2 separate regions of the Homo sapiens genome follow, and region 1 is linked to region 2. The links come from fine-mapping of genetic effects on gene expression. A gene starts in region 2. The other region holds a variant in brackets. All regions are shown on one strand. Distances are from middle to middle.

Evidence for each region.
Region 1: its variant is fine-mapped to the expression of TTYH1 in subcutaneous fat (FUSION, PIP 0.95).

Annotation. Positions count from the first base shown.
Region 1 is chr19:54,390,071-54,395,446 of GRCh38, reverse strand. No RefSeq gene overlaps it. Among named protein-coding and RNA genes, the nearest start is that of TTYH1, 23 kb to the left of the region's middle. RefSeq lists an enhancer at 3,451-3,998. The variant T/C (reference allele first, on the strand shown) is at 2,692.
Region 2 is chr19:54,412,728-54,418,103 of GRCh38, reverse strand. It overlaps TTYH1 (tweety family member 1), which reads right to left and starts at 2,640. Exons shown (of 14, transcript NM_020659.4): 1 at 2,426-2,640. The coding sequence starts at 2,551. LOC124904770 (LIM domain-containing protein A-like) reads right to left here and starts at 1,002. Exons shown (of 1, transcript XM_047439797.1): 1 at 1-1,002. The coding sequence starts at 968.

The sequences.
Region 1 (5,376 bases), 23 kb after region 2:
GGAGGCCGAAGCGGGCGGATCACAAGGTCAGGAGTTCGAGACCAGCCTAGCCAACATGGCGAAACCCCATCTCTACTAAAAACACAAAAATTAGCCAGTCACGGTGGCTCACATCTGTAATCCCAGCACTTTGGGAGGCCAAGGCCCACAGATCACAGGGTCAGGAGTTCAAGACCAGCCTGGCCAACATGGGGAAACCCATCTCTACTAAAAATACAAAAATTAACCAGGCGTGGTGGCAGGCGCCTGTAATCCCAGCTACTTGGGAGGCTGAGGCAGGAAAATCACTTGAAACCGGGAGGCGGAAGTTGCAGGGAGCTGAGATCGTGCCACTGCACTCCAGCCTGGGCGACAAGAGTGAAACTTTGCCTCAACAACAACAACAACAACAACAAAAAAAAAAAAAAAAAGAAAAGAAAAGAAAAGAAAAAGAAATGATGCCAGGCATGGTGGCTCACGCCTATAATCCCAGCACTTTGGGAGATCGAGGCGGGTGGATCATCTAAAGTCAGGAGTTCGAGACCAGCCTGACCAACATGGTGAAACCCCATCTACTAAAAATACAAAAATTAGCCGGGCGTGGGGGCAGGTGCCTATAATCCCAGCTGCTCGGGAGGCTGAGGCAGGAGAATCGCTTGAACCTGGGAGACGGAGCTTGCAGTGAGCCGAGATCACAGCCACCGCACTCCAGCCTGGGCAGCAGAGCGAGACTCTATCTCAAAAATAAATAAATAAGTAAATAAGTAAATAAATAAATAAATAAATAAATAGATAGATAGATAGAAATGAGCTCTCAAGCCATGAAAAGACACAGAGGAACCTTAAATGCATATTACCAAGTGGTAGAATCCCATCTGAAAAGGCTACGCATTGTCTGATTCCAACAATATGACATTCTGGAAAAGGCAAAGTATGGAGACAGGAAAAGATCAGAGCTGCCAGGGGTTGGGCGAAGGAAGGATGAATAGGTGGTGCACAGAGGAATTTTAGGGCAATGGCTCTCCTCTGTCTAACACTGTGACGGTGGGTGCCTGCCATTAGACATTTGCCTGAACTCATAGGATGTGCAACAGGAAGACTGAGCGAGCCCTAATATGACTTTGGGTGATTACAATGTGTCAATGCAGGCTCATCAGTTGTAATAAAAATACCGCTCTGGTAGGGAACGCTGGTAATGGGGGAAGCTATGTAGGTGTCGGCGTAGGGAGTACATGGAAAATCTCTACCTTCCCCTCATTTTACTATGAACCTGAACCTGCTCTAAAAATAGTCTTTTTAAAACATTTTTCTTCCTCTTCCTCCTCTTCCTCTTCTTCCTCTTCCTCTTCCTCTTCTTCTTCTTTCTTCTTTCTTCTTCTTATTCTTATTTTATTTTATTTTTTTTGAGACGGAGTCTCGCTCTGTCGCCCAGGCTGGGGTGCAGTGGCGCGATCTCAGCTCACTGCAAGCTCCACCTCCCGGGTTCACACCATTCTCCTGCCTCAGCCTCCCCAGTAGCTGGGACTGCAGGCGCCCGCCACCACGCCCGGCTAATTTTTCTGTGTGTTTTTAGTAGAGACGGGGTCTCCCCGTGTTAGCCAGGATGGTCTCGATCTCCTGACCTCGTGATCCATCCGCCTCGGCCTCCCAAAGTGCTGGGATTACAGGCGTGAGCCACTGCGCCCGGCTAAAAATAGTCTTTTAAAGAAAATTTCTCAACCCAAGCACTACTGTATGGAGACAGGGAGGGTCTCCAGGGATTATAGGAATTTAATCAACTTGAGCAATCAGCCTGTTTCACAGCCTTCTGCCCTGCAGCCTGTTTTTCTCCAAACCCTGTGTGGAATGCGGCCACTCGTTGGTTGGAACCAGCCTCTGACGGGCCCTGGCAACTTAGAGATGAACCCGAGTGAACTTTCTGCACTGCTGCGCTCAAGTCTCCATCCCGGGAGGAGCTGTAGTCTCGTTACCGTAACATGCGACCCGTGTGCTGGTATGACGACTCGCTGCATCTGCGTGACTGGGACCCTCCTCCACATACAACGACGCGCCCTCTCCCTGCTCCCTCACCCCATAGAGCCCTCCTGTCCCTTTTCCTCAGGGAGACACTGCTTTGAAGAATACACCCAGTGCCTTCCTTAGCTGTGTCAAGTCATAAAACTCTTCTTGATCAAAACCTCTGTATTAGTTTGTTCTCATGCTGCTAATAAAGACATACCCGAGACTGGTTCATTTACAAAGGAAAGAAGTTTAATGGGCTCATAGTTCCACTTGGCTGGGGAGGGCTAACAATCATGGCGGAAGATGAAGGAGGAGCAAAGTCACGTCTTACATGGCAGCAGGCAAGAAAGAGCGTGCAGGGGCGCTCCCATTTATAAAACCATCAGATCTCGTGAGACTTATTCACTATCACGAGAACAGAATGGGAAAAACCTGCTCCCGTGATTCAGTCGCCTCCCACAGGTCCCTCCCATGACACGTGGGGATTATTATTATTATTATTTTGAGACGGAGTCTCGCTCTGTCACCCAGGCTGGAGTGCAACGGCGTGATCTCAGCTCACTGCAACCTCCACCTCCCAGGTTCAAGTAATTCTCCTGCCTCAGCCTCCCGAGTAGCTGGGACTACAGCTGCCCGCCACCACGCTCGGCTAATTTTTTGTATTTTTAGTAGAGACGGGTTTCACTGTGTTATCCAGGATGGTCTCGATCT[T/C]CTGACCTCATGATCTGCCTGCCTCAACCTCCCAAAGTGCTTGGATTACAGGCGTGAGTCACTGCCCCCCATCGACACGTGGGGATCATTACAATACCAGGTGAGATTTGGGTGGGGACACAGAGCCAAACCACATCACCTGCATTCTCGGGAGAGTTGTTTGCTCCTCACCAGGCAAAGGAACCCTGTTTTTTTCTGGGTAACACTGTTGACTTTCGGGGCTAGGTTATTCCTTGGGGGAGGAGCTGTCCTGTGCATCCCCCGCCTCCACCCCCCACCACCCAGAAGCATCCCCCTCTCCTCTGGGTTGTGACAATCAAAAGTGTCTCCAGACTTTCCCTAGTGTCTGCATTTGGGACCCTTCTATTATTACTGCTGATTCCATGAGTACATGGTAATTACCCGCTGAGTTCCAGGGACTCCACTATAATTATCCAGCTGGTTTTGGGAGCTCCTGGTGCAATTATCCAGCTGGTTCCTGAGACTGCACCGCGATTCCTTAGCTGATTTCCATGACTCTACACACTGCCAGCGCCTGTACATAATTATACACTAGTTTCTAGAGCCTTTCTGTAATTATTCAGCCTTTTATAGAAATCTAATCATAACTACCTGGGCAATTTGTTTTGTTAAGTAGAGTGCTAATGAGTGGTCGCCAATGTTTCAGCTCCTCTTCTGAGTACCAGGGACGTGGGTAGAACTTTGATCCTATCTTATCCTTACAGGATATTGAGAGGAGAGGAGAGAAGTTGACATGGCACCACCCAGTGGAATGACATAGTCAGCACAGAGTGCAGTGGGAGCACAGAGGAAGAGTGCCAGGCCCATCGTGTCCAGCTGTGTAGGTTGTGCACTGCACAACTCTGGGGTCATATCACAAACTGTGAGTGTGAAGAGCCTTGTAAGGCTTCCAGGACAGGTTTCTAGGGGTCACCAGATGCAGTTCTAGAGCAAGGCTGAGGAATCCTGACTCCTAGAAAGAAGGGGGCAGGGAATTGCTGAGGACGTTTGAAGTCTAATGGGATGACACGTCCCCTGCTGTGACAGGCAGCTCAGGTTTCTAGTTGAAGTCTGGGAAGAAGAAGGCTCCATGAAGGCGCTTCTATTTGGAGTCATTTGTGTTACTTCCCAGCTCACTCAGGGTGATCATGGTGACCAACAGGGCTCTACACAGGACCTGTGGCCCCAACCCTCACCCCTCTGCATTCTCTTCCTGCCACTTCCCTCTTCCTACCCCTCTGTCTGCAACTGCCACACTATTCCCCCTGCTGAGCTTTGCACCCTCCAGACCCCCTGGACCACCGCTGCACTTTCTCATTTATCCAAATCACTCTCACCTTCTAGCTGACTGTGACTGTATAATGCCTGTGGGTTACTGCCCCTCTCCTTCTGCAAGAATATAAGCTCTTCCATGGAAAGGGTGTTTGTTTTCTATATTGGTGGACCTCTAGAGCCTCAAACAGTGTCTGGCACACAGGACAGGACCAACAAATACTTACTGAATGAAAAAAATGAATGCCAGATGGAAAAAATAAAAATGAACTAAGCAGGGAGTTTCTCCACTGTGGCCACAAGAGGGAGCCCAAGCTATGTGTTAAACCCTTCCAGCACTAAGGTGGGTGGTCTCTCTGCTCCTCAGCCTGGAGGACCAGGGACAGGTGTGACCTGAACCACGTCCTTTCTCCTCTGTGAGCCTCTATTTCCCCATGTGTAGCGTGGAGATGGAAATGCCTGAAAGGAGTTCCCGTAAGAAGCGGAAAAACCAACAACGCATGCACGTGAATGTCTTCCAAGGGGTTATTGCATGTGTCCAAATTCATCTGATTGTGTACATTAAGTGAGAAGGTTTTTTAGTAGAACAATTATAGCTAAACAAAGCTGCTAAAAATAAATGGAACAAAAATAAAGGAGAATTGCATTGAACAACAACATCCAAACCATTAGGCTAGCACAGGAAACTTGAAGGAGAGTAATCCAGCCCCTGATAAATCAACAGAGTAAGAAATATTAGTTACAGAAAGTGACCATAATGTTACCTTGGGATATTATTAAAGCATAAAACTAAATGGAAATTATGAAGCTGAAAAGTACAATAAATTTCTAGCAAGAGCCGGATGTGGTGGCTCATGCCTGTAATCCCAGCATTTTGGGAGACTGAGGGGAGTGGATCACCTGAGGTCAGGGGTTTGAGACCAGCCTGGCCAACATGGTGAAACCCCGTCTCTACTAAAAATACAAAAACTTAGCCAGGCATGGTGGTGCATGCCTGTAATCCCAGCTACTCAGGAGGCTGAGGCAGGAGAATTGCTTGAACTCGGGAGGTGGAGGTTGCAGTGAGCCGAGATTGCGCCATTGCACTCCAGCCTGGGCAACAAGAGCGAAACTCTGTCTCAACAATAACAACAACAGCAGCAACAACAACAAAAATCCTAGCACGATGAAGACATATTCACTAAAATCAATCATATGTCTATATACTGACAAAAATAATTCAATAATGAAATTAGGAGAGCAATTTTATTTACAAAGCCTCAAAAATAATAAAATGAATAGAAACCAATTTAATAAAGAAATGCAAGATGTGTACACTAAGAACTACAAAAGATTGCTGAGGGAAATTAAAGATCTAAATAAAGAGAGAAACACTTCATACATTCACAATGGCATGCAAAATAATAAGAAATA
Region 2 (5,376 bases):
GACTTGCCAAGGCTGTTTCCCCTAAACCACGGTGTTTCTGCCTTTGTCCACACACATACACACACACAGTGGCACAGTGTGTGTGTGTGTGTGTGTCCCAAGTGTGTGCAGTGTTTGTGTTTCTGGTTGAGACTGGATGTTTTTATCTTTGGGCTGTCTCCATGAGATGAGGGGGCACCTGAGTGTGTCTCCTGGGTGCACTGCTGTCTGCAAATGAGAACATCTGTGGGCATTTGTGTGTTCTGGGCACAGTTCCTTGGGCCTGTGAGTGGGTCCGGTTGTGTGTGTGTAACAGTGTGGATGAGTGTGTGTGTGGATGCGTGACTGCATGTGAGTGTGTGTGTGCACATGAATGCTATAGTCAATATGTGTGTGCATGTGTGTGTAGATGTGAATGGAATGTACGTGTGTGTGTGTATGGGAGTATAAACGTGTATGTGACGGTGCATGCATGAGTGTGTAAGCATATATATATAAGTGCAGTGTGTGCTTGTATATGGGAGTAAATGCTTATACATGTGTATGTGTGTGTTGTGAGTCACTGTGCGCAATGTGCGTGTGCATATGTGTGATTGTGTATGTGTAAGTGGGTATATCCATGTGAGTGTATGCATGTGTCTATATGCGTGTGTTGTATGTGGGTGTGAGTGCATAGCGGGAGTAGTAAATGGGTATGTGTGTGTGCATATGTGAGTGTGTAATGAGAGTAGGTGGGCGTGTGTGTGTACCTGTGCATATGTGTGTGTGCATGTGTGTAATGAAAGTAAGTGGGCGTGTCTGAGTGTGTGCATGTGAGTGTGCATGTGAGTGTGTAATGGGAGTAAGTGGGTGTGTCTGAGTGTGCCTGTGCATATGTGTGTGCATGTGAGTGTGTTGGAATAAGTGGGCGTGTCTGGGTGTGCCTGTGCATATGTGTGTGCATGTGAGTGTGTAATGGGAGTAAGTGGACGTGTGTGTGTGCTGTGCATATGCCAGTGAGTGTGTGCGTGTGGCTGTGTGCCTCCCCCGGGCCAGTGTCCCTGAGGCCCTGGCTGTGTCTGCAGCTGTACCCACGGTGGTCGCGTCCCTGCAGGGGTCCCCCTTGCCCTCCTCGGCTGTGGGGCTCTGCCCGCGCATCCCTGCCACCCTGACCCTGACCCCCGACCGTGGGGGCGGAGTGAGGCTCCCCCAAACCCGTGCCTCTGGCGGTGACTGGGGCCGCGGATCCCCGCGTGCGGCTTCGGGAGGTCTCCGGGCCAGAGCGGGCGTGAGTCTGGGCCGAGGCCGGAGCCGGTGGAGCGGCGTTGTTGGAGGTGGCCGTTGTGTAACCGCGAGGCTGTGGGCGAGGGGACGGCGGTCCCCGTGTGTGGGGAGAGGGGGCGGCGAGGAGCAGGCGGGGAAGAGCTGCTCAGGGCTGTGCCAGCCGTGACCCAAATAGCTCAGAACACAGCACTCATCCCCTCCGCGCTTTTCTGGGACCCCCTCCACGCCCCCTGAGCTCTCCAATCCCAGCCCCCTTCTCCCAGGAGCAACCCAAGACGGAGCCCAGGGGCTCAGGCCCCATCAGCAGGGCCAGGACCCGTCCTGGGGCCACATCGGGACTCCCAGCACCCCCACCCGTCCCCAGCTCAGCCAAGCCTTTCTCCTCATTAATCTCGAAGTCAAGGACTTGAATTAAACTGGGTCAGGGGACAGCTCTTTCGCCCATTGGAGCTGCCCCGAGCCGGGCCCCTTCCCCAGGGACACCGGCTTCTGTGAGGTTCCCACACCGGCCCCACCCTCGGGACCCGGGTCTGTCATCCCGAGGCTCCCCAAACCCAGCCTCATCTCGGCCCTCACCCCTGCAGCGCCCTGACCACCCCTTCTTTCTTGGGACGGGCAAGAAGCTTCCTCTCCCAGAGCCCCTTCATTTTCCAGCCCTGGTCCTCAGCCCCTGAAGCCCCCTTCCCCATTTCAGACTCTCAATCCCATCCCAGCACCGCAGCAGCCAGCGTTTTCCCCGCCACCGTTATCAGGTCCGCTGTCTCCTGGGTCCCACCTTATCTGGGACATATTCACCTGCTCTGATCCTGTGGGGCAGGGTCATCTTTTAGGGCAGGAAGAGTAGACCTACCCTCCCGATGACCCTGGAGGCCGGCTTCCCAGGCAGGTATCAGACACCCGGGAATCCGGGCCCCCCTCCCCTCCTCTCCATGAACTCAGGGGTGCAGGTCCCCAGCCTTCCCTTATTTAGAGAGCTCGAGGTCTGGACCCCCAGCGCGCGTCCCAGGAGAACCTCCAGGCATGGGCGCCCCCAGGCTCCTCCTCCCTCCGAAACCCCAAAGTCCGGGCCGGCCCCCAGCCTCCGGCGGAGCTCAGGAAATCTGTGACCCAGCCCCCTTCTCCCTCGGGACCCAGGAGCTCCGGCCCCCAGCCCTGGCCCCCAGGCCCTGGCGCCCGGTCCCACCTGCTGGTATTCCTGCTCTTGGGGCGCGAAAACGCTGGGCACCGGGCGGAGCTGGAAGTCGGCGCGGGGCAGCTGGTGGAGGAGATGCACCCAAGCTGAGGGCCGGTAGCCCGGGGGCGCCCCCATGGCCCCCGGGGGAGGGGGCAGCGGGGCGGACGCCGGGGCTGCGGGAGCCTCCGGAGTCGAGCGGGGCGCGGGCGGCGCGGGGTCTGGCTGGGCTCAGGGGAGCGGGAGCGGGGGGGAGGCAGGGGGTGGGGGGCGGAGATTGGGGGGAGGGAGGCGCGGGCCGGGCGGGGACGGTGCTGCCCCTGGTGGTCGCGGCGGGGACTGCGGGAGTCGGGAGGCCCCCAGCGCTCCGCGCCCCACCCCGGTCGCGGCTCCCACCTGCTGCCCGCGCAGGTACCGCGCTGCTGGCGTCGGCGGCATCCGGACAGCTGGCTTGCATCGCGATTGAAATCAGCCCTCCTTGTCCATACGAGGCCACTCATACTGTTATTTCACCTAAAACATAATGATCCCTTTATCCTTATGGAGAAACTTCATGTCTGTGTAAAGGTTGCTAGTAAGTACAGAGCGTTTTACAAAGAACGGCCAATTCCATGGATAAGAAGTCCTCTGTGTACGAAAGTGCTCCCACCTGTAAAAGATGCCCGTATTTGTGTAAAATCTCCGTCCCACTTTTATTCCTAGCCTGCATAAGGACACAGCTTCTAAGCACAAACACTCCTATGTGTAGAGGCTACTCCAGAATGTATGGAAAAATCCACACGCCTGTGTAGCAAGCCTTCATGCTGCATAAGGACCCCTTCTACCTGCATAAGGACCCTGGTCATCTATATAGGGGCCCTTCCCATCCTGTAAACTGACTCGGGATTACTTCGGTGTATACAAGGACCCCTGCCCCTTGGCATTCGCCATACAGTTACAGAGTATTTTTCCAGCCACTCCCCATGTTACATCTCACTGGAATCCTCCGATGCCACACCGATAGATGGGGAAGTGCCAACCCTGGGAGGGGACCTGGCCACCCTGACATCATCACCCAGACTGTCACTATTGCAGCCAAAACTAGGTGCTCAGGAATCTGGCCCCAGGGGTCCCCTCTTGCTGTAGGGCAGGGTGAGACTTTGCCATCTGGAAACCACACACGTGGCCTCTCTTGTGGGAATTGGGATGAGTGGAAGAAAGGGAGATTAGTTCTCCACTTAACCCATTTCCATATTTTGCTCCAGATTGGCAAGAAAGGGCTAGGGAAAAGAGGAATGCTGGTGGTAGCGGAGGTGGTGGTGATGACGATGATGGTGGTGATTATGTTGGTGATATGATGTCATGATGATGGTGATGGTGGTGATGGTGATGATGATGGTGGTGGTGGTGTTGATGATGGTGATGGTGATGATGATGATGATGGTGAAGACATGATTATGTTGACATGTCATGATGATAATTATGATGATGATGGTGGTGGTGATGGTGGTGACGGTGGTGATGATGGTGATGGTGGTGATGATGTTGGTGATGGTGATGGTGGTGGCGATGGTGGTGGTGGTGATGGTGGTGATGGTGGTGGTGATGATGGTGGTGATGGTGATGATGTTGGTGATGGTGGTGGTGGTGGTGATGGTGGTGGTGATGTTGGTGATGGTGGTGATGATGTTGGTGATGGTGGTGGTGGTGATGGTGGTGATGATGTTGGTGATGGTGATGGTGGTGATGGTGGTGATGATGCTGGTGATGGTGGTGATGATGTTGGTGATGGTGATGGTGGTGATGGTGGTGATGATGTTGGTGATGGTGGTGATGGTGGTGATGATGTTGGTGATGGTGGTGGTGATGGTGGTGATGATGTTGGTGATGGTGGTGGTGATGGTGGTGATGGTGATGTGGTGATGGTGGTGGTGGTGATGGTGGTGATGGTGGTGATGATGCTGGTGATGGTGGTGATGGTGGTGATGATGTTGGTGATGGTGATGGTGGTGACGGTGGTGATGGTGGTGGTGGTGGTGATGGTGGTGGTGGTGGTGATGGTGATGGTGAAGATGAGGATATGATGATGATGATAGTGATGATGATGATGGTGGTGAAGACAAGATTATGTTGACATGTCATGATGATAATGATGATGATGATGGTGGTGATGATGGTGATGAGGACGATGATGATGACGGTGAGGAGGAGGATAGTGATATTGGTGAAGGTATTGATGATGAAATGGGAGAGTGAGAATAGGCGCCTTATCTCTGTCTCTCTCTCTCTCTCTCACACACACACACACACACACACACACACACACACACACACACCCTCTCTCATCACTACCCTAGGTCTTCTTCAGCTTTCTCTGGTTCTGGCTAGAGTCATGTTCTCCACCATTCCCAACCAGGTGGCCTACATGGGGCTTGGGGATGAAGAAGATCCCGAGATGAGCGGTTAGAGGTGTATTAAGTGACTCTAGGCAAGTAGTTTTTCATCTTAGAGTCCCTCTTTTTCTGTCTGTAAAATGAAGGCTTAACCCTTTAGGGCTAAGATTAGTATATTCTAAAACTCTTGTTCTGACAATCTCTTGCATCATGTCCACAGCCAGTGTTTGTTGTAGCAGCAGGATTTGCTAATGGGAAGAATTCCAAACGTCATGATGTGCACAGTTGGGCATGTGTACATCAGAGTGCAGGACAGTGAGGTGCTGGTGGTGACTGTGCAACCCAATAGAGCTCAGTGGCTCCACGTTGCCCATAGAATCAAGTCACACCCTCAGCCCTGAGTTTATACCCTCCATCATTTGGCCCTGCATCAGCCCTCTCCATATGGATAATATTCTAGATGAGTGGTTTCCAACTGATAGGGCCACAACCCACAGTGAGAAATACATTTTACATTATGATCTAGTATACACACACACACAAAAAAAAAAAAAAAAAAAAAAGTAAAAAGTTTCTGACCACTATGTGCAA